2 separate regions of the Homo sapiens genome follow, and region 1 is linked to region 2. A link means that fine-mapping ties the variant in region 2 to the expression of a gene that starts in the linked region. Tissue or cell type: cultured neurons. Region 2 holds a variant in brackets; the other region holds the start of a gene. All regions are shown on one strand. Distances are from middle to middle.

Evidence for each region. PIP is the estimated chance that this variant, and not a neighbour inherited with it, causes the effect.
Region 1: SYN3-AS1 starts here. The variant in region 2 is the best candidate, but not a certain one, in a credible set for the expression of SYN3-AS1 in cultured neurons (Aygun 2021, PIP 0.65).

Annotation. Positions count from the first base shown.
Region 1 is chr22:32,567,917-32,578,857 of GRCh38, reverse strand. SYN3-AS1 (SYN3 antisense RNA 1) reads right to left here and starts at 3,919. Exons shown (of 4, transcript XR_001755503.2): 1 at 1-3,919. All of the region lies in intron 7 of SYN3 (synapsin III), which reads left to right.
Region 2 is chr22:33,075,501-33,086,441 of GRCh38, reverse strand. It overlaps a transcript of LARGE1 not described here. Among named protein-coding and RNA genes, the nearest start is that of SYN3, 23 kb to the right of the region's middle. The variant G/T (reference allele first, on the strand shown) is at 4,162.

The DNA.
Region 1 (10,941 bases), 510 kb after region 2:
CAAAGCCTAAAATATTTACCACTGGACTCTTTACAGGAAACGTTTGCCAATCTCTGGCCTAACACAATGCTTTTCCAAAAATGTGTACAATAAACCCCAATGAGGAATACATTTTGTCTTGCCACCTGATTGCTAGATACTGTATATTGACCAAGATAAGTTTTACAGAATAATACTTGCCCTTACTATGTTCAAGGAATTGTGATATCTTCAGTTCTAGTGTATTTTATTTTTTAAAATGTTGGTTGTGATCCATTAAGTTGATTTGATGACCAATTTCAAACTCACAGTTTGAAAAATATTGGCTTGACTAGGGTCAGTGGCTCATGCCTGTAATCCCAACACTTTGGGAGGCAGAGGCAGGTGGATAGCTTGAGTCCAGGAGTTCAAGACCAACCTGGGCTACATGGCAAAACCCATCTTTACTAAAAATAAAAATAAAAAAATGCCAGGTGTGGTGGTGCACACCTGTTGTCCTGGATACCTGGGAGGCTGAGGTGGGAGGATCACCTGAATATGGGAGATTGAGGCTGCAGGGAGCCATGATCATGCCACTGCACTCCAGCCTAGGCCCCAGAGTAAGACCCTGTCAGAAAGAGAGAGGGAGAGAGAGAGAAAGCAAGAAAGAAAGAAAAGAAAGAAAGAAAAAGAAAGAGAGAGAAAGAAAGAAAGAGAAAGAAAGAAAAGAAAAGGAAAGAAAGAAAATACTGGCTTACTAGAAAGCAAATCATCTTCATTCATTCGTGTATTGAAGAAGTATTTATAGCATCCAGGCACTTTGTACATGCCAGGCACTATTCTAGGCACTGGAGATGCAATATCAAACACAATCAAGTCCCTGCCCCATGCAGCTTACATGCTATGGAGGGAAGCAGATGAAGAAAAGAATAAACAAATAAATCTTCCATATATCAGGAGATGAGAAGGGCTCTGAAAAAGAAAGACACCAAGTAAGAGGCAGAGTGTGACGAATGTGATCAGAGAAGCCTTTCTGTGAGGTGCCATGTAAAGGAAGGAGAGAGTGAGTCATGTGGACATGTGGAGGAAGGGCATGACAGCAGAAGGAACAGCACAGACGAAGGCCCTGGGGCAGGAACAGGGAGGTCAAGGAACAGGGAGGAGGCCAATGGAGCAGGAGTGAGTGCTTGAGGTAAAAAGTGGTAGGAAATAAGCTCCCAGAGTGAGGACAGGTGGTGGAGGAAGATCATGTAGACAATGTACTGTGATCAAGGCAGAATGAATAAACTCTAAAGCAGAAATATAAGCCAAGAGCTGAGAATCCAGTTAGAGTCATGATGGAGGACAAATCTCCAATGATATTTTCATTTATCAAAAAAACATGTAAGTGTGTGTAGACGCTGTACTTAGACAACCACAACAGTGTGAGGATCCAAAGATGAATGGACATTGGGCCTCCCAAGGGGGTCCCTTTCTAGCAGGAATCTAGCCATGCAAGCAAATGATTACATTGTCATAGCAGGAAATGTCATGGGCAACAGGAGCCCCTTCGAGGGGGTCCCAGGGAAGACTTCCATAAAGGTGGGAAACTTCAGCTGTGTCTCCAAAGATAAGGAGACATCGCAGGTAGAAAAAGCAGAGCAAACTGTCCAACACAGCAGGACCTACACACAAAAGCATAAAGGCCCAAGCAAGCTGCTCAGAATGGGGGGAAGCAGCGATGCTTAACCCTGGCAGTGCATTCGAAGCACCCGGGAAGCTTGTAAATTCCACTTCTGCCCAGGGCCTAATCCCAGGGACTCTAATGTGATTGACTGGAGTAAGGCCCAGATGCTGGCATTGTATTATCCCCTGGTGATGCTAATGTGAAGCCAGTGTGGACAAGCCCTGGGCTGGAGTGAGGCCAGGAAGAGAAAGTGAGACTGGGGCCAGATCATGAGAGTGTTTCATGCTACACTCTAGAATACAGGCTTTATCTTCTTGGTGAGAGAGACCCACTGGTGGGTTTCAAGCAAAGAATAGGCATGGTCAGATTCATAAGGGAAAAAAGGCGTCCTGGCAGTGGTGTGAAGAGAAGAGAGGGGTGGGGGTTGGAAGCGGGGGATTAGGGCCCCATTAGGAAGAAACTGCGGCAGTTCAGAGAAGAGATGATAAGGGTTTGTACCCAGGCAGGAAGCAAGGCCGTGAGGAATGAGATAAGGATGCAGTCGAGTGATATGAAAAACGGCAGACTTGAATGAATTTGGGAACTGACTGTGCCAGGCGGGAAAAGAACTCAAGATTATCACGATTCCATTACTGAAGTGTACAATCAAGAAAAAATGGCTTGAAGGGGAAAGAGAATGGGTTCAGGTTTTAACATTTTGAATTTGAAATACCTTACGGAAAATAGTCACCATCATAAACCGTGTATTTATTGACCGCATACTAGGTGCCAGGCCCTGTGCTTCGTAGTTCATGTGCGTTTTCCTACTCAGTTGTCACAGCAGCTCTCTGGGGTAGGTAATCTGATTAAACCCATTTACAGAAGGGAAAACTGAAGCTCAGACAAGCGAAGCCAGTGGGAAGAATGGTGAATTACATCCATTATGGTGTGCACGGGATACTCGGCACAGAGCTTGGCACATGGTGAATGCTCAGAGAATGGCCATACTATTAATAGTTATTATCTCTTCCCCACTGTGGGAAGACCTCAAGCCAGGTCTGCGAGAGAGGGAATCAGGAATACTTGGGAGCCCTGTGGATATGTGGGTGCCTCAGAGTGTCTATATGTCGATAGAACCATACTCAGGCCATTGCTTCATTTTATTTCCGGCTTCCTAATGAGGGCATCTCAAATACTCTTGATATTACCCCCTCACCAGCCCTATCCCACGACCGCTCATCATTATTTTATTTTTTTAAATTTCTTCCTACAAAGTTAATCTCAATGTACTCACATCTGTTCTGTTCTGTGAGGGAAATTGTGTTGTTGGCCACGCAGCCGGAATAGGTTTGTTTTTTTTTGTTTGTTTTGTTTTGTTTTTTGTCTTGAGGAAAGAAGGGGAACTTTATTTATTTTTTAATATAGCTCCTCTTGCCTGGTCCCATGCCAAATAAACAAAGCTGCTATTCATTTCCGTATCTCCCCATCTCTACCGTGCCCAGAGTCATTTTAGCAGCAGCGCCTCTTGGGCTGCCTCTCCGAGAGCCTGGAACAGCAAATAAGAATGTCCTAAAAGTGAGTGCTGTGAAAATAGAATCCTATTTAATGAGACCGCAGAGAGCAAGACCGTTGCTCTCTTGGTGAGTGGAGGAGCAAACATTATGTTTAAAGTTGTGGTCGGAAAATGCTGGATCCTCAAATGTGGCCTCAGCTAAAAGCATCAGCCAGTGCATCGCAGGTCATGACTCAGGGGCAGGTAGCTGAGGCAGCTGCAGGAAGAACTTAGAACCAGGCTGCCGCCCTCTGGAAGACCCCCACCCCCATGCTTGGGGAACCCCCACCCACTCCCTCGCCAGAACACGTCTGTCATGGTCCTTCTCTTCTTGCCACCGCATCTCAATATCAAAGCTGACTCGACTTGTGTCCCATTCATGGAATCACAAGTATTGGGGTTAAAGAGGACTTCCAAAGATGTGGCGTCCAACCTTCCACCCAATGCTTCCTCAACAGTGACCTGGCTTTGCTCTTTTGACTTTGAGCCCTTTGTCCAATGAACAATGAAAACACTTAGTATATTAAACAGATCCTAGTGGAGCTGTTCTGAATGAAAAAAGAAAAGAGATCTAGAGACCCACCCAGCCGGGCTCCCGGCATGGCGCCATTCCCTCCATAGAATTCAGTTTGAAAACCACCCGCTTAGGTCAAAAGAGGGCCTAGGTACCAGGGTCAGCATCCCTTTATTCATTCAGTAAATTGTTCCTAAACACCTGCTAGTGTGCAAGGAGCAGGGAATACATTTGCGAGTTTAAAAGACCAAGTCCCTACTCTCATAGAGCCCATATTTTGCTTATTATTTTGGAGGGTATAGAAAACTATTAATACAAAATAATTTCAGACAGTGCTAAGTGCGAGGAAAAACACAAAACAGAGTAATGCAATAGCATATGACTGGGAGTAACAGATGGGCTGCTTTAGATGGGATGATCCATCAGCTATTCAGATCATGAGAAGGCGCTGCCTAGCTATGGGACTGGCTGCAGCGAGAGCTTTGCAGGCAGAGGGAGTACCAAGGGCAAAGTCCCTGAGGCAACACTGAGCTTGGTGAGTTCTAGGAAGTAAAAGAGAGAGGGAGGGGGCAAGTGGTAGGAGATGAGGTCAGAGAAACCAGCAAGGCTAAACCACATTAGCCCCTGTAGGTGCATGTTATGAAACACTAGCAAGCGTGGGTTGTGTTCAGGTGCTGTTGGCATCGAACACGATGGTGATTTTTTTTAAAGAGATGGAGTCTGTCTCTGGTGCCCAGGCTGGAGTACAGTGACGTGATCATAGCTCACTGTAGCCTCAAACTCCTAGGCTCAAGCCATCCTCCCACCTCAGCCACCCAAGTAGCTGGGACTACTGGCGTGCACCACCAAACATGGCTACTTTTTTTATTTTGTTAGAGACAGGGTCTCACTATGTTGTCCAGGGTGATCTTACACTCCTGGCCTCAGGCGATCCTCCTGCTCAGCCTCCCGAGTGGCTGGGATTGTGGGTGTGAGCCACTGTACCCGGCTCACGATGGTGGTTTTATTTCCTGCCAAAATAATGAAATTTGGACACTTTCACTTCTTTCCTCATCAAGGAAAGGGCCCTGAGAGGGAGATGAGAGTCCTAACTTAAAAATAAAAAAACCCCAGCCAAGCTCAGTGGCTCATGCCTGTAATCCCAGCATTTTGAGGGGCCGAGGCGGGAGGATTGCCTGAGCTCAGGAGTTCGAGACCAGTCTGGGCAACATAGTGAAACCCCGTCTCTACTAAAATAAAAAAAAAAAAAAAATTAGCCGGGCGTGGCAGCGGGCACCCGTAATCCCAGCTACTCGGGAGGCTGAGGCAGGAGAATCACTTGAACCTGGGAGGCGGAGGATGCAGTGAGCCGAGATCACACCACTGCACTCCAGCCTGGGCGACACAGCGAGACTCTGTCTCCCAAAAAAAAAAAAAAAAAAAAACCCCTTCCTTCCCCTGTGAGTTTTCCTTTCCTTTTCCTTTCCAGTTGTACCACCAAAACAGAGTGACTTCCTCTCGGGGGCTGCTGTGTCCTCTTTCAAAACATGAGTGAACTGGGCCACTCAAAACTCTCCTTTTGCATGAAATCCTACAGGAAACTTGAAATCATGGATAAAAGTAGCATTAGATTAGCTGTAATTTTATTCAATAACTTTTCATTTACAACATGTATGATAGAGTTCATCAAGAGAACAATAAGGCCCTTTTGATGAACTCAGTCCTATATTAGCCTCAGCACCCAACTTCCCTTTCTATTTTGTGTCCTTGAATAGCATAGTGTTGACAAAATCACCAGTATTTTACCGGCTTTCTCTGCAATCTCCAAATAAACCAAGATGGAAGGAGAGGCCTTATTCTGAGGATTGCACCAGAAAAGGTCACCCAGGCAGCTCATGTGTGTGGAACATTTGAGTGTCCTTTTTGGATGCTTTAAAGTCAAGCTTTTAAATATTTTATTTTAACAAAATGACAATCAAGCCATTTGTGCAACATGTCATATCCTTACCTGGAATACTGAAAACAGTCATAAACTGTCTTCCAGCCAGTGGTGTGCTGGCAAACTGGCTCTCTGGGGAAAACAGGGGGGAACCCTAATATGTTGTGTTTGCCAGTTTCTGGGGTATAAATATTTCCACCACAAATGATTTCAACCTAACAATGATCTAATAACTGGCTGACAAGATGTCTAAATATTTAACAATCACCTCTTATAAGCAAGTCTGAGCCAGCTCCGGGACACCATTGCTTCCAGCCCTTATCCATGGTTGGTGTTCTTGAGTCGAGCCCCCTCGAATGCTATCATCTGAAAACAAACACCCGCAGTGGCAACGCAAGGCCCTGATAACTTTGGCTGGAGCCAAGGAGGGCCAGTGAGAGTGAGATGGGGAACAGAGGAGTGGAAGACACGAGCTGGAGTTGCTGAAGTCCTGGGGCTGGTGTATTGTCAGAAATGGCCAGAGAGCCAGATATAGTGGCTCCCATCTATAATTCTGACACTTTGGGAGACTGAGGCAGGAGGATTGCTTGAGCCCAGGGGGTCAAGGCTGCGGTGAGCTATCATTGCACCATTGTACTCCAGCCTGGGTGACAAAGTGAGATGCTGTGTCAGAAGGAAAAAAAGAGAGAGAGAAGAGAAGAGAAGGAAGGAAAGAGAAGGAGAGAGAAAAAAGAAAGAAGGAAGGGAGGAAAGAGAAAGGGAGGGAGGAAGGAAGGAAGAAAAGGAAGGGAGGGAAGGAGAAAGAAGGAAGGAAGGGAGGAAAGGAAGGAGGGAAGGAAGGAAGGAAGAAGGAAGGAAAGACAGGAGGGAGGGAGGGAAGGAAGGAAAGATGGGAGGGAGGGTGGAAGGGAAGTAAGGGAAGGAAGGAAGGAAGGGAGGGACGGAAGGAAGGGAAGGGAGTAAGGGAGGGAAGGAAGGAAGGAGGGAGGGAGGGAGGGGGGAAGGAAGGAAGGAAAGGAAGGAAGGAGCCAGAATCTGACTCCAGGGGCAGAAATGGTAACTCCTCTTTAAGCCAAGCTCTCCCAAACCTACCTGTACTTTATACACCTCAGATCACGTCATAGCCTACCTTCCCCTTGAGAATCATACTTCAAGACCCAACTTAAGTACCTTCCCCGCTTAAAGCCTCCTCTGCTTGCCCAAGCATGATGCGATTCATGCCCTCCTGTGAGCGAGCTCTGGGCCTAGCACAGCCCCATCTTACTGCACCATCTCACCATCTGCAGTTTCCTCTTCTGGGCTAGACCTTAAGGGCAGAAACCACAACTGGAGCGCCAACACCGAGCACACAGCCTGATACTCTCATTAGTTTACTCAACAAATACCAACTAAACCCCTACCCAGTGCCAGGCAGTGTTCTGGGCACTGAGGATGCAGTGGTGAACAAAACAAAGCTGATGCCTTCATGAAGGGTTTGATTCTAGAAGACACTCAATAGATAAGACTCTCGAAGTCAGTCCCCTGCAGTTGCTGTTCTTAGGAAGGCTGGCAGAGAAGAACTTTCATTCATTTTATTTTAACCCTAGCTAGAACCCACACATAAACAGTGCCACCTTTCATAGTCTTTTGGTTTTATTTTTTAATTATGACTTTGGGAGAAGGACTTGAAGGTGTATTAAGGTACCATCGCCATAGGTCAAGGGTTGTGGGAGGAGGTTGCTTGTTACATATTTATCCACTATAACCCATTAATAGCTTAGGCTGAGTTGCTTCACAGGTTAGGAAGCCCTGGCCAAAATGATAGATGGAGTGAGCTTAACATGCCTGGAGATAGGATGAGCAAAAGGCCTGAGGCTTTGCCCCTGGTGGCCAGGGTGCCACATAAATCCAAGCTCCTGGAATGGGTAGAGTGAGGCAGATCCTGACCTCCCAGAGCAACCCAGGGCCAGCCACTCCCGCTGCCTACTGGTTGTTCTGGGCACTGGGGATGGAAAGGAAGAAGACAAAGTCAAAGGAGGAGAGAAATGGAGAAGAAAGGAGGATGAGAAGGGGAGGGGGGATGCTCTGGGGAAGTTTGCTCCTTCTCAGACTTAAAACTCTAGGAGAGCCTGAAAGGCCTTCCTCAGACTGCCTCCTGTAGCACCAAAAGCCCTAAAGATGGAGTGGACTGTGGTCATGATTTAGGACACCCTACAGGTCACCCATTCTGTTATTTAGCCAACATTTTAGAAACACACACACACACAATTCCCTCTTGCTCTGCTTAAATATATTTTTAAATGGTGTTTTGTATCACTACCATAGATTATGAGTTTTATGGGCCAGATAATTTTTCCTAATACACCTTGAAATAAATATCTAACTGTTAAAATTATCCATGTTCATTTGTGTCCCCCCTAAATCATCCTGTGGGCCACCAGTGTCACGCATTGTGGGTCACTGGTAGAGAGAAGTCAGCATCCCAGTGCTGAGCAGGCTTGAAGCCAGTGTTGGTCTTTGGCTCATGGGTAAGTAACCCTATCCAAGCTACCTGCTCCTCCCTGTGTGCCTCAGCTGCAAAATGAGAGGGTTGACCAGATGCCAACTCACGTCCCTTCACACTGAGATTCTAAGCTGTTTTTTCTATAAGGGTAGAGTTGCTAAATGCGGCATACTCAGAGCACACTTCTCAGCACCCCACCCTCTCCCTCCCTCCTGAGACTCCTCCCCCGACCCTACTACACCCCCTTTCCCTACTCCCAGATCTACCTGGGAGAGAAACATGCACAGCTTCAACTCCAAAATTAAAATTCAATGTTTTAATCAGAAAACAAAAACCTCCAATTCTTCCTAACCTCAGCACAACGCTCTAGACCCTTTAACTTTGGTAAAGTGAGTCACATCCCCATCTGCATAAAAAAATCTTTACTGCTTTTGGGAAATGTTTACAATGGCCTTTAATTTCCCAGTATTTCACAAGGGAGCCAGACAGACAAGGAGTCTAGCCATCCCCTGGCGGGACCCCACGCTCAGCATCCTCCTCCACTGTCTGTCTTTTGGATATAGACAAACCCCTCCCAAGTCCTGCAGGACAGTCAGCAGGCTTTCCAGTCCTCCCTAGAAGGCAGTGTGTGTGGAGGGAGGTTGGTTAAATACCATGTTTAATCGACCTCGGAAGCTATGCATGAGCAAGATAAGTCCAGCCATTGTGGCACCTAACACACCCTCAGCATGGCCCGTACTAAAAACACTTTTCAGAGGACTGGGAGAGGGGTGTCCATGCCCAGAAAACGTAAGCCATCGGGGCCAGAAAAATGAGGACAATAGCTTTAATGCTATTAATGTATCCTGGACTTTACAAAATCTCTAGATACCTTTTTGATAAAGGTGCTTACGGTTAATGACAAACAGCTAACATTCGTTGCTTTGTGCCTGGCACTGTTCAAATCATTGGGCCAGTTTACTTCTAAATCTTCACAGTAACTCTGTGAAGCAGGTACTATTACAAACCCCATTTTACGGATGAGAAAATTAAGGTTTAGAGAAGTTAAGAAATGTCCCAAGGTCACATAGTTAGGAAGTAGTAAAGCCTGACTCCCAAACCATGCTCAAAGCCATACCTTCCATTTGTGGAGTATTTCGTATTTTTAAAACTCTTATGCATGCAATAATAACCATCACCTAGAAGAAATAGATAGATTTTATATATATATATATATAGAGAGAGAGAGAGAGAGAGAGAGAGAGAGAGAGATTGATTGATTTTAGATAGATATAGATAGATGATACATTTTAGATACAGATAGATTTTAGATCAATTGATAGATTTTAGATAGATAGAGAAGATAGATAGATAGATAGATAGATAGATAGATAGATAGATAGATAGATTTTGGATGGAGATAGATAGATTTTAGATAGGTATAGATGGATAGATAGATATATTTTGGATGGATAGAGATAGATAGATAGATTTTATATAGATAGGTGTAGATAGATAGATAGATAGATAGATAGATAGATAGATAGATAGATTTTGGATGCATAGAGATAGATAGAAAGAAAGAATTAGGTAGATAGAATTTCTAATCCTCCCAACTCTCTGAGGGTGAGTATAAATATTATCATCTCCATTTTACACATGAGGAAATTGAACCCCAGAAAGACTTAAGAACTCATTCCAAATCATGGCATTTGTAAGTCCCTAAGCTAGGATGTGAATCTAGACCATCCTGACCCCGTCATCTATATACTTGCATTGTGCTGCCTGCAAAATTTCTTCTGATTCCTCTAACAACTTTGTGACTTGCATGGGAAGAATGTGTGTCATAGTGCAGCCTAAACACCCATCAAATGGAATTCTACAAACCCAGCCTGATTGATTAGCTTCAGGAGGCCCCTCAGTATTCAGGCAATACAAAGTAATACATCCCCTAGGACACTCTCCGGTTGTGTCTTTCAAAGTCTTTGCAAACTAGCTATTTTCTACCAATTTGTTACCAACCTAGCTAGCTAGGTATCCACCTATCTGTCTGCTACAGATATGTTAAAATATGTTATATGCTAAAGTCCTACCCCCCAAGGTGATGGAATTAGGAGGTGGAGCCTTCGGGAGGTCATGAGGGCAGATCCCTGAGGAATGGGATTAGTGTCTTTCTAAAATAGGCCCTGGGAGCTTGTTTGTCCCTTCCATCCTGTGAGGTTACAGGAATAAATCAGGGCCTCACCAGACACTGAATCCACCTTGACCTTGGACTTCCCAGCCTCCAGAACAGTAAGAAATACGTTTCTGTCCTTTATAAGCCACCCAGTTTATGGTATTTTGTTAGAGCAACCCCAATGGACCCAAGACACTATCTGCTTATTTGTTTTCCATTTCCCTGACTAGAATATACCTGTCTTATTTATGACTGTATTCCCAATGCCTAGCACAGTACCCTCAATAAATATTTGTAGACTAAATACAAAGCCCTGTGGAAGTCCAGAGGAGGAAAGAGAAATTCCTAGGAGCTGGAGGAGGAACTGAGTTTTAGGGTTTTGAGGAATGAGTAGGAATTAGGTAGAGGAGCAAGGAGAGCATTCCAGGAAGGAAACAAGAGCAAAGGTACAGGGAGCCCAGGCTGGTGTCATTCAGGACCTCCCAGAGGCACAGCTCTCCACAGCAGCTAGGAGCAAAGGTCTGGCTGTGCTTTTGCCTGTCAACTCCAGGAAGATTCTAACAGCCTTGCCTGTCCCGTGAGGAGCTTTAATCATCCAGAGGACTTTATGCAGCTGTGACCGTCCGGTCCCTTCTGAAACTGGGGATCATCCTCATTAGCAAGCTTCCCCCTCCAAACAACACTGATGCATAAAATGGCCATGGCTCTGGCCCAAAT
Region 2 (10,941 bases):
ATTTTAGCTTTAAATGAGTTGAGAATAATAGAGACACTACCCAACCTGGGGGCAGGTTGTCTCAAAATGCTTGCAAATTTAGAAGACAAAAATCTGTTATCAACCCATGACCTAAAATATGGAACTCGTAGCAAAGTTATTTTAAACTCTTTTATATCTGCCAAAGAATAATTTTACTTAGATGTGGGAAATAAAATTTTTCTATCATGGTGGATGGTGTTCAAACTATTTTAGATTTTTTTTAAAAATCCAAATTTATTGGAATTTAAAACAACAGACTGATACTATCTTTATTGCTTCATTTCACTAAGTACTATGAAAATATTTGTACTCTGAAGCATATTTTTCCGAAGCATATTCTGTGAAAGGCCTCATGTGCACAGGTGTTAAAATTCTTCAGTATATACATATAAAAGTTGTGAATTACTGCCAGTTATGGATCTATTGAACAAAATAGAAGACAATTAACTTAACAATCTTGTGATATTTGCTAGTGTTCATCAGTTGTGTGGTGGAACAGTTATACAAAAATTTACTGTATTATTAACTCCATTTGCTTGAAGCAAAATTCACCAAATCAAAGACAAAAAATGACATTGTGATTTACATTCCTAGACAATATCACACTCATATAAACAAGCTAAATTTGAAGTTTCATGGAACGAAAAGGTTTATTTGTGACTCAGCAAGACCAGTATGAGAATTTGCTGAAATTATAATTTTCATTATACAAATCAACAATAATTATATTACACATTTTTCTAATGTGAATTAATATGCAGAAGATTGTAATTGACAGTATTATGTACATTGGCTGCAAAAATGACAAGACAAATTTGAAGAACATTGTATTGATATTAGTAAATTTAGAGCTGCTTTCCAATTTTTGCAATACCCTTTTGAACCCAATGTTGATACTGAGTTGACATAAGAGTTAGTGAATTTACTGTGGACAGACATGATTTTGAAATGAATATGCTTTGGCTTCAAAGCATATTCAAAGTCAAATTGATTGTTCTAAAATGATGAGCCAGTTTTGTCAATATAGATTTAAAAATTAAATGAAAATGATGCTTTGATATTCCATTCTGTTTTTAGAAAACTTTTAAGTTTGTTTCAAACAGCTTGAGCATGTGATTCTACTGTTTATTTTTTTATTTTTCTTTGAGACGGAGTCTCGCTCTGTCACCCAAGCTAGAGTGCAGTGGCGCGATCTCGGCTCACTGCAATCTTCGCTTCCCGGGTTCAAGTGATTCTCCTGCCTCAGCCTCCCGAGCAGCTGGGACTACAGGTGCCCGCCACCACACCCAGTTAATTTTTGTATTTTTAGTAGAGACGGGGTTTTGCCATGTTGGCAAGGCAGGTCTCGAACTCCTGACCTCAGGTGATCCACCCTCCTTGGCCTCCCAAAGTGCTGGGATTACAGGTGTGAGCCACTGTGCCTGGCCAATTCTACTGTTTTTGAGAATATGCTTTATAAAATCTAAATATAGATAAAATATTTTTGATGAAAATTAGCTTATAAATTAAGATGTGCTGTCAGTGTAAAATACTCACTAGATTTTGAGGATGTTGTTATAATAAAAAGAATGTGAACTATCTAGTTGATAATTTTCCATGTTGATTAGATGTTGAAATGGTAGTATTTGTATATATTGGGTTAAATAAACTACATTATGAACATTAATTTCATCTGTTTCTTTTTACTTTTTAATGTGGTTGCTAGAAAATTTAAAATTACATATGTGGCTTACATTATATTTCTGTTTGTTTGTTTTGTTTTTTTTGAGACCAGGTCTCACTCTGTTGCCCAGACTGAAGTGCAGTGTTGCTATCATGGCTCACTGCAGCCTCAACCTCTTGGGGTTCAAGCAATCCTCCCACCTCAGCTCCCAAGTAGCTGGGACTACAGGTGTGAGCCACCACACCAGGCTTTTTTTTTTTTTCGAGAGACAAGGTCTCACTATGTTGTCCAGGCTGGTCTCAAACTCCTGGGCTCAAGCCATCCTCCCACCTTGGTCTCCCAAAGTGTTGAGATTAAAGGCATGAGCCACTGTGCCTGACCTTGCATTATATTTCTATCAGACAGCAATGAGGGTATAGACATCAATAAGACCTAGTTCCTTCCTTCAAGCAGAAAACTAAACACAGAAACAGCCAATCATAAAACATTATGGAAGTCAAGGGATGGAATTCAAAGATGCTGAAGAAGTATCAGAGAGTGTACCTAACTCAGCTTGGGGAAACCAAGGAGGACTTCTTTGAGGAGGCGATAACTGAATTTGATCTTAAAAGAGGAGTAGAGATTAAATAAATAAGAAAAAATAAACATGACTTTCCAATGGAATGGTCATTTTCAACAATGGGCTATAGGAGTGAAGTAGCAAACTCATGTGGGAGACAAAAAGCAGTTCTGGTTTACTGGGGTGTAAAGTGTAAGGAAGATATGGCTGGAGATCAGGCTGAAGAGGCAAATTAGATCATGAGGGGCCTGGTAGATTGTGCTAAGATTGGGACTTATTCTATAGGTGACAGCTAAGGGTTTTAAGTAGAGCACTCAGGCAGTAAACCCTGTAAACTCTTGCTGGGAGGTTTTCCTTTCCCAATCTGTTTCACTGTGGAAGTGGGAGTACTGATCATTTTCATTGCTTGATTGAACTGAGTCAGTGGCAGGGACCTTTCTCAAGAGATGACCTCTTACATTGTGTGGCAGCTGGTTTCGTGTCACTAGAGACAGTCCTCCCTCATTCAACACACTTCGAACTCACAAAGCTGATTAATTTAGCCTTAAATCTCAGCATTTATTTATTCCACTGATCACTATCTGATATATTATATATTTTTTCATGGTTCAGACTTTCCCCTACTGAAATGTAAGCTGAGTGAAACAGAGACTCTGTCAGTTCATGACTATATCCTTAGAGACTTTCATATAGCAAGTGCTCAGTGAGTACTTTTGAACAAATAATCACATTAGATAAGATAGTGACACCTACTGACAATGTGTAGTATTGTAATCTAGCTCTACTGCACTCTGTAATTACTTGGATATGACACCTAAGGAAGACAAATTCCATCAGCAGGGAGTCCCTATCTCTGAATGATGCTGACTTAACTGGCCCAAAATTACAACAAGTGAAAAGTCAAGGAAGGCAAATGCATACCTAGAAAATTATGGCAGCCTAGCATAGTGAAAGAACAGAGACTTGAGACTCACATTGACATGGGTTTTCCTCCCCACCTCAGGTATTTACTTGCTGTGTGACACTGGGCAAAGTAATTCACATCTCTAAGCCTTAATTTCCCCATTCATAAGAAAAGGCAATAAAACCAACAGTGTTTTGATATTAGAAATGATATATTTAGAGTGTCTACTGTAAATGGTAGTTTATTATTTTTATTTTTATTTTTATTTTGAGACGGAGTCTTCACTGTGTCACCCAGGCTGGAGTGCAGTGGCATGATCTCAGCTCACTGCAAGCTCCGCCTCCCGGGTTCACACCATTCTCCTGCCTCAGCCTCCCAAGTAGCTGGGACTACAGGTGCCCGCCACCACGCCCGGCTAATTTTTTGTATTTTTAGTAGAGATGGGGTTTCACCGTGTTAGCCAGGATGGTCTCGATCTCCTGACCTCATGATCCACCCACCTCAGCCTCCCAAGGTAGTTTATTAAGTATTAGTTTCTGTATAAGGCTTTATGGAGGGGAGGGAACTTGTCTGTTGCTAACTATCTCTCCTTCATTGTGGTCCGGAAGGAGCTTTGAAATCATTCCCATGCATTTGGTTTTTCAGAGAAGGTATTTCTCTGCTCATTTCATTGCAGGCCATTTCCTGGCCTTGCACAGTGAGTGAATAAGTAAATGCGTAGATTGCTCAGACTTCTGAGATCAGAAACCTTTCTCAGGAGGTTTTCCAGGCACAAGAAAATCAATAGCAGATGTCAAGCAGCTTCAAAGCTGATTACCTTGAAATGAATGGTCACACCTCCTTTCCAGCCAGGTCTCCATCTTTCTCTTGTTCAAGGGTCAGCTGCAATACATTAGATCCCTAATTAAGAAAGAAGATGATCAGCAAATGACTCCTCTGAGCAGAATACTAAACAACCGGAAGGGTCTTGGAACAGATCTGCTGGCATCTGCACAGAGGAAGAACATGTAGATA[G/T]AATTGAAGCTGCCTTAATTGGTAGTGGTGTAGGGATTGTATTTCACTGCTCTGCTGGGAGTAATAAAGGCCGACATTATAATCAGTGCGGCAGTAGAGAAATGGAAACTTAGAATCTGAGCTGCTCTGCTATTCAACTAGAGCCAGTGAAAAGGAAATGGATACTCTTGGCTGGTTGAAAATGTAGAGCCTCCACCAAATAATTAAAATACCCTTGGCAGGGTAAAACTAGACCCTACACCTAATAATAATAATAATAACAACGACAATAACAACAATATTATCTATGGAGTGAAGCTGACCTCGATTTAAATTCTTTGTCTATTACCCATTTAGCCTAAAGCATATTGCTTAGCCTCCCTGAATCTCCCTGAATCTTATCATTTATAAAATGGGATCATGGAAAATGTTAAATAATTAATCTATCATAACTGGCAGAATTCCCAGCACAGAGAAAGCTTGCAGACAATGAAAATCTCTTTCTCCCCTCCCTTTCCCTATGTGCTATTCAAAGTGTCTTTATATTTGTCAGATGTTCCCAGTCTAGGTTCTGGATAGACATGAGGGTAGAAGGCTACAAAACCTCTGGTATTTTATGCAAAATGTCATATGAATGTGGTCTTTTCTGATGAGCATGTCCATAGTTTTCAGCAGATTCTCAAAAAGGGTTAATCTCTCAAAAAGTTTGAAAAAATCCCTGGTATATTTTATCTTTCTTTTATGACTTGGCCTCTGCTTCCCCCTGCACCCGTATTGCCTACTGTTTTCTTCCTCATCACTGTATTCCAGCTACTCTGACTCCCTTTATTCCTCAAAGATGCCATGCTCATTCCTGCCTCAGTCTTTTACTTATCATTCTTTCTCCTCCCTACGTCTTCACATGCAAAACTTAGCTCACAGGTTACTTCTGGAGATGGTCCTTCCCTGACATCCTAATCCAAAGAATCTTCTCCAGTTACTTTCTATTGTATCAGTATTAATCTGTTCAGGCAGCTATAGATTGCTGCATAGACTGGGTGATTTAAACAATAGACATTTATTTCTCACAGTTCTGGAGGCTGGGAAGTCCAAGATCAAGGTGCCAGCTAATTCAGTTCCTGGTTAACGTTCTCTTCCTGACTAGTAGATGGCCACTTTCTCATTATGCTGTCACATGGCAAAGAGAGAGTGATTACCTTCAAAAGGCCCTATGTCCACATACCTCACACTGGGGAATAGGGATCCAACATATGAATTCTGAGGCAAAACAGTTCAGTCCAGAACTGTGTGCCAATTACTACAAGAGTGGATGGATGGATGGATGGATGGATGGATGGATGGATGGATGGAAGACAGATGGATGAACGGATGAGCAGATGGATAGATGGATGGATGGATGACTTTTGAGTGCATCCCTGTAAGGCATAGAAGAAAAGTTTCTTTTCCCATTTTACAGATGGGTAAACTGAACCGAGGTTCAGTGCCTCAGAAAAGGCTTATGGACAGCAGTTAAGAGTATTCTCTGGAGCTAACTGCCTGAATTCAAATCCCAGCTTTACCACTTATAAATTATGTAACTTTGGGCAAGTTACTTAATCTCTCTGTTCTTCAGTGTCCTCATCTGCAAAATGCTGCTAATAATTATATATGATATTAGTCATTAGAGCTGTTCACCAGTATTCTGATTCTTCCACTTCTAGGCACATAAGCCATGTGTTCCATGCCCACGTGAAGTTAGGTCTGGATATCAAATGTGAGCTGAAGTGTCTGTGTCATCCCCTTGTGGAAACTTTTAAGAGCTAATGTGAGATTTGCCCTTTCCTGTTCTCTGACATAAAATCTGAAACATTCTGTATGAAGGTCATTTTCTTAGCCTGCATCCTGGGGTGAAGACAGAGTGGAACGGAATTCCCATGAACCTACAACGAACAAAGAGCACGAGTGAGAAACAAACTACTGAGATCTGGTGGTTGTTTGTTATCACAGCATAACCTAGCTAAGCTTGACAAATACACATATATACCAACTTACTGAGCTCTTGTAAGAATTAAATGAGGTGATGCAAGTAACATGATTCAAAAACATCTGGCACATAGTAGACACTACATAAGTGCTTGCAATAATTATTACTCAGTGAATGTCGAAGCTAAGACTAAAACTCATGTTTCCTGGGGCTATAATTATAAAACAAATTTTACTGCACTTTTTAATTCTTAAATCTACAAAGGAACATTTGAGAGGAAGAGGGGAGGATCCACAGAAGCCTTCCCTCCACATGCCTGCCACCTCTGGCTCTAAGAAACCCAGCACCTGGAGGCAATGAGGACAAGTTCCTGAGCACATGCAAGAGGACAGTCCCCCTGATAGCTCTCTTGTGCTCTGCCAGGCCAATGATGCCATTGTCGGAGAAAAGAGCCATGATCAATTTTCATGGGTTTTGCCCTCAACGGGTCATTCCTGTTCATCTTTTCCTTCCTTCTTCTTTTCTTGGGGGCTCAGAGTAAAATTATGTCTTAAGGGGAAAGTTCCAAGCAGCACTACTTGCTAGGTTCTTCTAAGCAGAATGGACAACTCATTTATTGCCAACCAACTTTGTAAGGAAACTAGAGTTTCCTTAAACGAACTGGGTTGGTACCTCTGAAAAGCTTAGAGACACTTGAAAACAAATAATAGAGTGTGATCCAGTCTAGTCTATCTTATCAGTAACATAGCAGTGAGGAGTTAATAGGCATCAAAAATAATAAAAGTTGTAGGTAATAAGAATGATAACTAGATGGCCAGGTGTGGTGGCTCACGCCTGCAATCCCAGAACTTTGGGAGGCCAAGACGGGCAGGTCATGAGGTCAGGAGATCGAGACCATGCTGGCTAACACAGTGAAACCCCATCTCTACTGAAAATACAAAAAATTATCCGGGCGTGGTGGCGGGCGCCTGTAGTCCCAGCTAGTTGGGAGGCTGAAGCAGGAGAATGGCGTGAACCCAGGAGGCGGAGCTTGCAGTGAGCCGAGATCACGCCACTGTCCTCCAGCCTGGGTGACAGAGTGAGACTCTGTCTAAAAAAAAAAAAAAAAAAAAAAAAAGAATGATAACTAGATATCATGGAGACTTATGTCAGGCACCGCTGCCTCTAAGCGCTTTATGTACCTTAATCATTTAATCATCACCCTACACTACTAGGGAGTTACTAGTATTACCATCCTCATGGCATAGATGAGAAACTGAGGCACAAGAAGCTAAGGAACTCAACACTGACACCAAGTAGAGCCAGGTTCAAGCCCAGGCCATCCAGCTCCAGCATCCATGCTTGTAGTTAGTGTGCTGTGTTGTCTCTCACCTGTTTAAGGTGTTACGTAGTTTCACACTTCCATGCCTTTGCACGTGATATTTTCTCTCACATTTTAAAACTTAGATCAAGAGACATCTCATCTGTGGAGCTTGCCCTGACCTCGCCTCTAACCCTCTCCTTTGAGGCAGTCACTTACTTTTCTGTGACCCTCTGTGCCTTTATTACAACAAATTTCACACTAAGTCATGAGTAATTTAGGGGAAGAGACTACATCTTAATAATCTTAGCATCTCTGGTATCTTGCACAGTCCCTGGCACAAAATAAAGGCTAATTCAATGTTGTTGAATTGATTTGTAAGGATTCAAAAAACATGAGTACATAGAGGGCAATACAATATAGTGACAGACAGCATTGGTTGTGGAGTCAGACTGCCTGGCTTCAAATCCTGGTCAGTAATTTTCATAACTAACTGGTATGACCATGGACATGTTAACTTATTTTTCTGTGCCTCGATATTTTCCTCCTATACAATGGGTATAATAACAGTACATGTTGTAATGGATTATTACATGGATTAAATTAGATAATGTAGCAAAGAACTTAACCTGGGTCCTGGCACATAGTAGGTGCTCAATAAATATTGGCTCCTACTGCCTGAGCTTCCTGGTACATTTCTCGCTAAAGATGTATTATAGCTATGCCTATCACTGACTAATGAGGAAAGAGCCTCATATGAATATGGCTAAATGATGACAATTTGGCAGACTTAGAGGTGTAAACCAAATTATCTGTAAAGCTGCAGGACTCTAGTTAATGTAGTCCATGACCAACAGCAATCAGCAAAAGCACTCAGCATTTTTTTTCCATTCAGATGGATGGAGGCAAAGCAGTCAAAACTAGGGAAAGAGAAATCACCGGAGAAAATTGATTACACCATTACCAGTTATTTTCTGGGACAATACTAATATAGCTTTCATTATTTCTTTTTTACGCCAGTCTTCTACTGCAAATTGCAAATAGTACATGCAGTTCAGATTTCACTCAAAAGGAGACTAGTTTTGAAAAAAAAAAGGAAACGAAACAAAGGTGCATAAACACCTTCATCCTAGATGGACATGAACTACAGATTATTATACTCAGTGTATAAGTGAAATGTAAAGTGAAGAATGTTCAGTATTAAAATTTAGACTAACGATGAAATGAACCTTAAACTGCACCGTCAGAATTATTTTAATAACTGAATTAGAGGTGAAGACAGTAAACCAAAAAGCATAAAATGTTCTAATCCCTGTGTTAAGATGATCAGGTAAAATATGCATAATATATGTTTAGGATCTACATGCTAATTGTACTGATTGGAAAAGGCATGCACAAATACCCCTTCTCTTTCTATCCCCTCAAGGAAAAAAGATTAAAATATTGGAAATTCATCTCGTTTTATTGTGAGGCTGTTATAGCTCAGTATTAAAGAAAGACTTGATCACTTATAGAAAATGCCCCTTTCATATCCAATCTGCTCTCCACATTACTAACATTAGGGAATCCAAATATTAAGAAGCAGTAAAATGGCGTCTTATTTAGATGTATTAGTCTTATAAAACCTAAATAAGAGCCCAGATTTCTAAACAGCCTAGGTTTAAATCTGAGTGCCAAAAGTACTATATGACTCTGGGGTAGTTACTTAGGCACTCTATGAGGTTCCTCACTTTATAATGGGAATAATAATAGTACCTAGATCATGTACTATTGTAAGTAATTAGTAAATTAGTATGCCTGGTACATAATAAGCACTCAATAACTTTAATCATTATTATGTAACTTGTATGTACTATTCCTAAATCTCCTTTTGAAAAGGAATGCAAACAAGGAGTAATAATAATAATAACAATAATACATAGCACTTACACTGTTGCAGGTTCAGTTTTGAGCATTTCTTGTGTATTAACTCTTTTGATCCTCATAGCAACCTTTTGAGATAGTCTTACTGGGTAGAAGTGACATGACTTGCTCAGGGTCACACAGCCAGTGAGTAGTACAACCCTGATAGGAACCCTGGCAGTCTGATTCCAGAGACCTCCCACTTGAGCATTAAATATGTATCCAATTCTTTGAGCACTGTGACTGAATTTATTCACTATTCACTAAAAAGAAAATCCATTGAGAATGAACTCTGGGTCAAGTAACATCCCAGCTCTTAAGATACAACGCTAAAGAAGAAAGAGTCTCTCAAAAAAGTTACAATTTCTATAGCTATATGGCTTATCTTAAGCTTATCTGTGTTTATTTTGTTTATAGACATATGGATAAACACTATTGGACAGATCTGTAGGCTTTTATGAAGTCTAACTCTTTCCCTTTTACCTTTCCCTCTTCCAGCTGAAACATTCACACTTGAAATCTGAAGGACTTGTATAATACAATTCAGCACCACGGACAGCAGGAAAAATCCCATTGACAGAATAAATCTGAAGTTTTCCTTTCAGTATTCATGAAAATCTGGTGCTTCAAAACAGATACACACACATCCAATTAGGTACTCAAAAATATCTTCAGAAGAATCCTAGAAATTACAAAACACAAGTCCTTGGAACAGAGAATGAAAATTGCATCCACAAGGCCACATAGCCAAAGCCAAGAACTAAGCTCCTAGAACTAATCTACTTATAATAAATCCCATCACAAGTATACTGTCACCATCAAGCAGAATTGTGTGTATCTCCAGTGACATGGGTGTGTTTACTATGGCACTTTCTCAAATAGGAATTAAGGAAGAAGTCACGTACTCTGATTTAAGTGCCAGAGAAATATCTTATCCAATCAGTTAGGGAGACTTATTTCCTAACAGTATAACTTATTATTTCCTGTTTCCTAATATTTTTGAAGTCATGGGTTGAAAATGAGTTTCAAGGTCAGGTAGAGGAGAAATAGATTCAAGTTACTACTGCCCTTGCCTTAGACACTGAATTTCTTTGACCTTGTTGAATACATTAGAATTCTTTCCAGCCTATCGATGTTTATTAGATTTGATATTGCCTAATTCTGACATCCCAAAGGAAGGTGACTCACTCGCAGTAAACGTGTTATCATTCTCTAAGGATATGTCTAATCTGCATGACATCGTCTTATCTGGAAGACACATTTTAGGTGGATAGTCCCCAGAGCTCATGAAAGGAAAATTTTCCATTTGTTATGTTTCTCTAATCCTATTCAATTATAACAGCTATGAGAAGCATCTTTGAAGAGGAAGGAATGTGATACCGTGAAGGAAAATAGAATTATAGATTTAATTACTCAAGACCATATTTACTATAATAGTCAGTGCAAAGCTTTTCAAAGAAGTCTTCATTGAGTAAATAAGAATTGTCATAAATCTTTCTCCTCCAAGATCCTTTCAACAATTATTCAGGTTCTACCACCTACTAGCTATGTAATTATGGAAAGTTACTAACATTCTCCAAGCCTCGGTCCCCTTATCTATACAATGAGGGCTGTTTTACTTAGGATTCCTCACTGG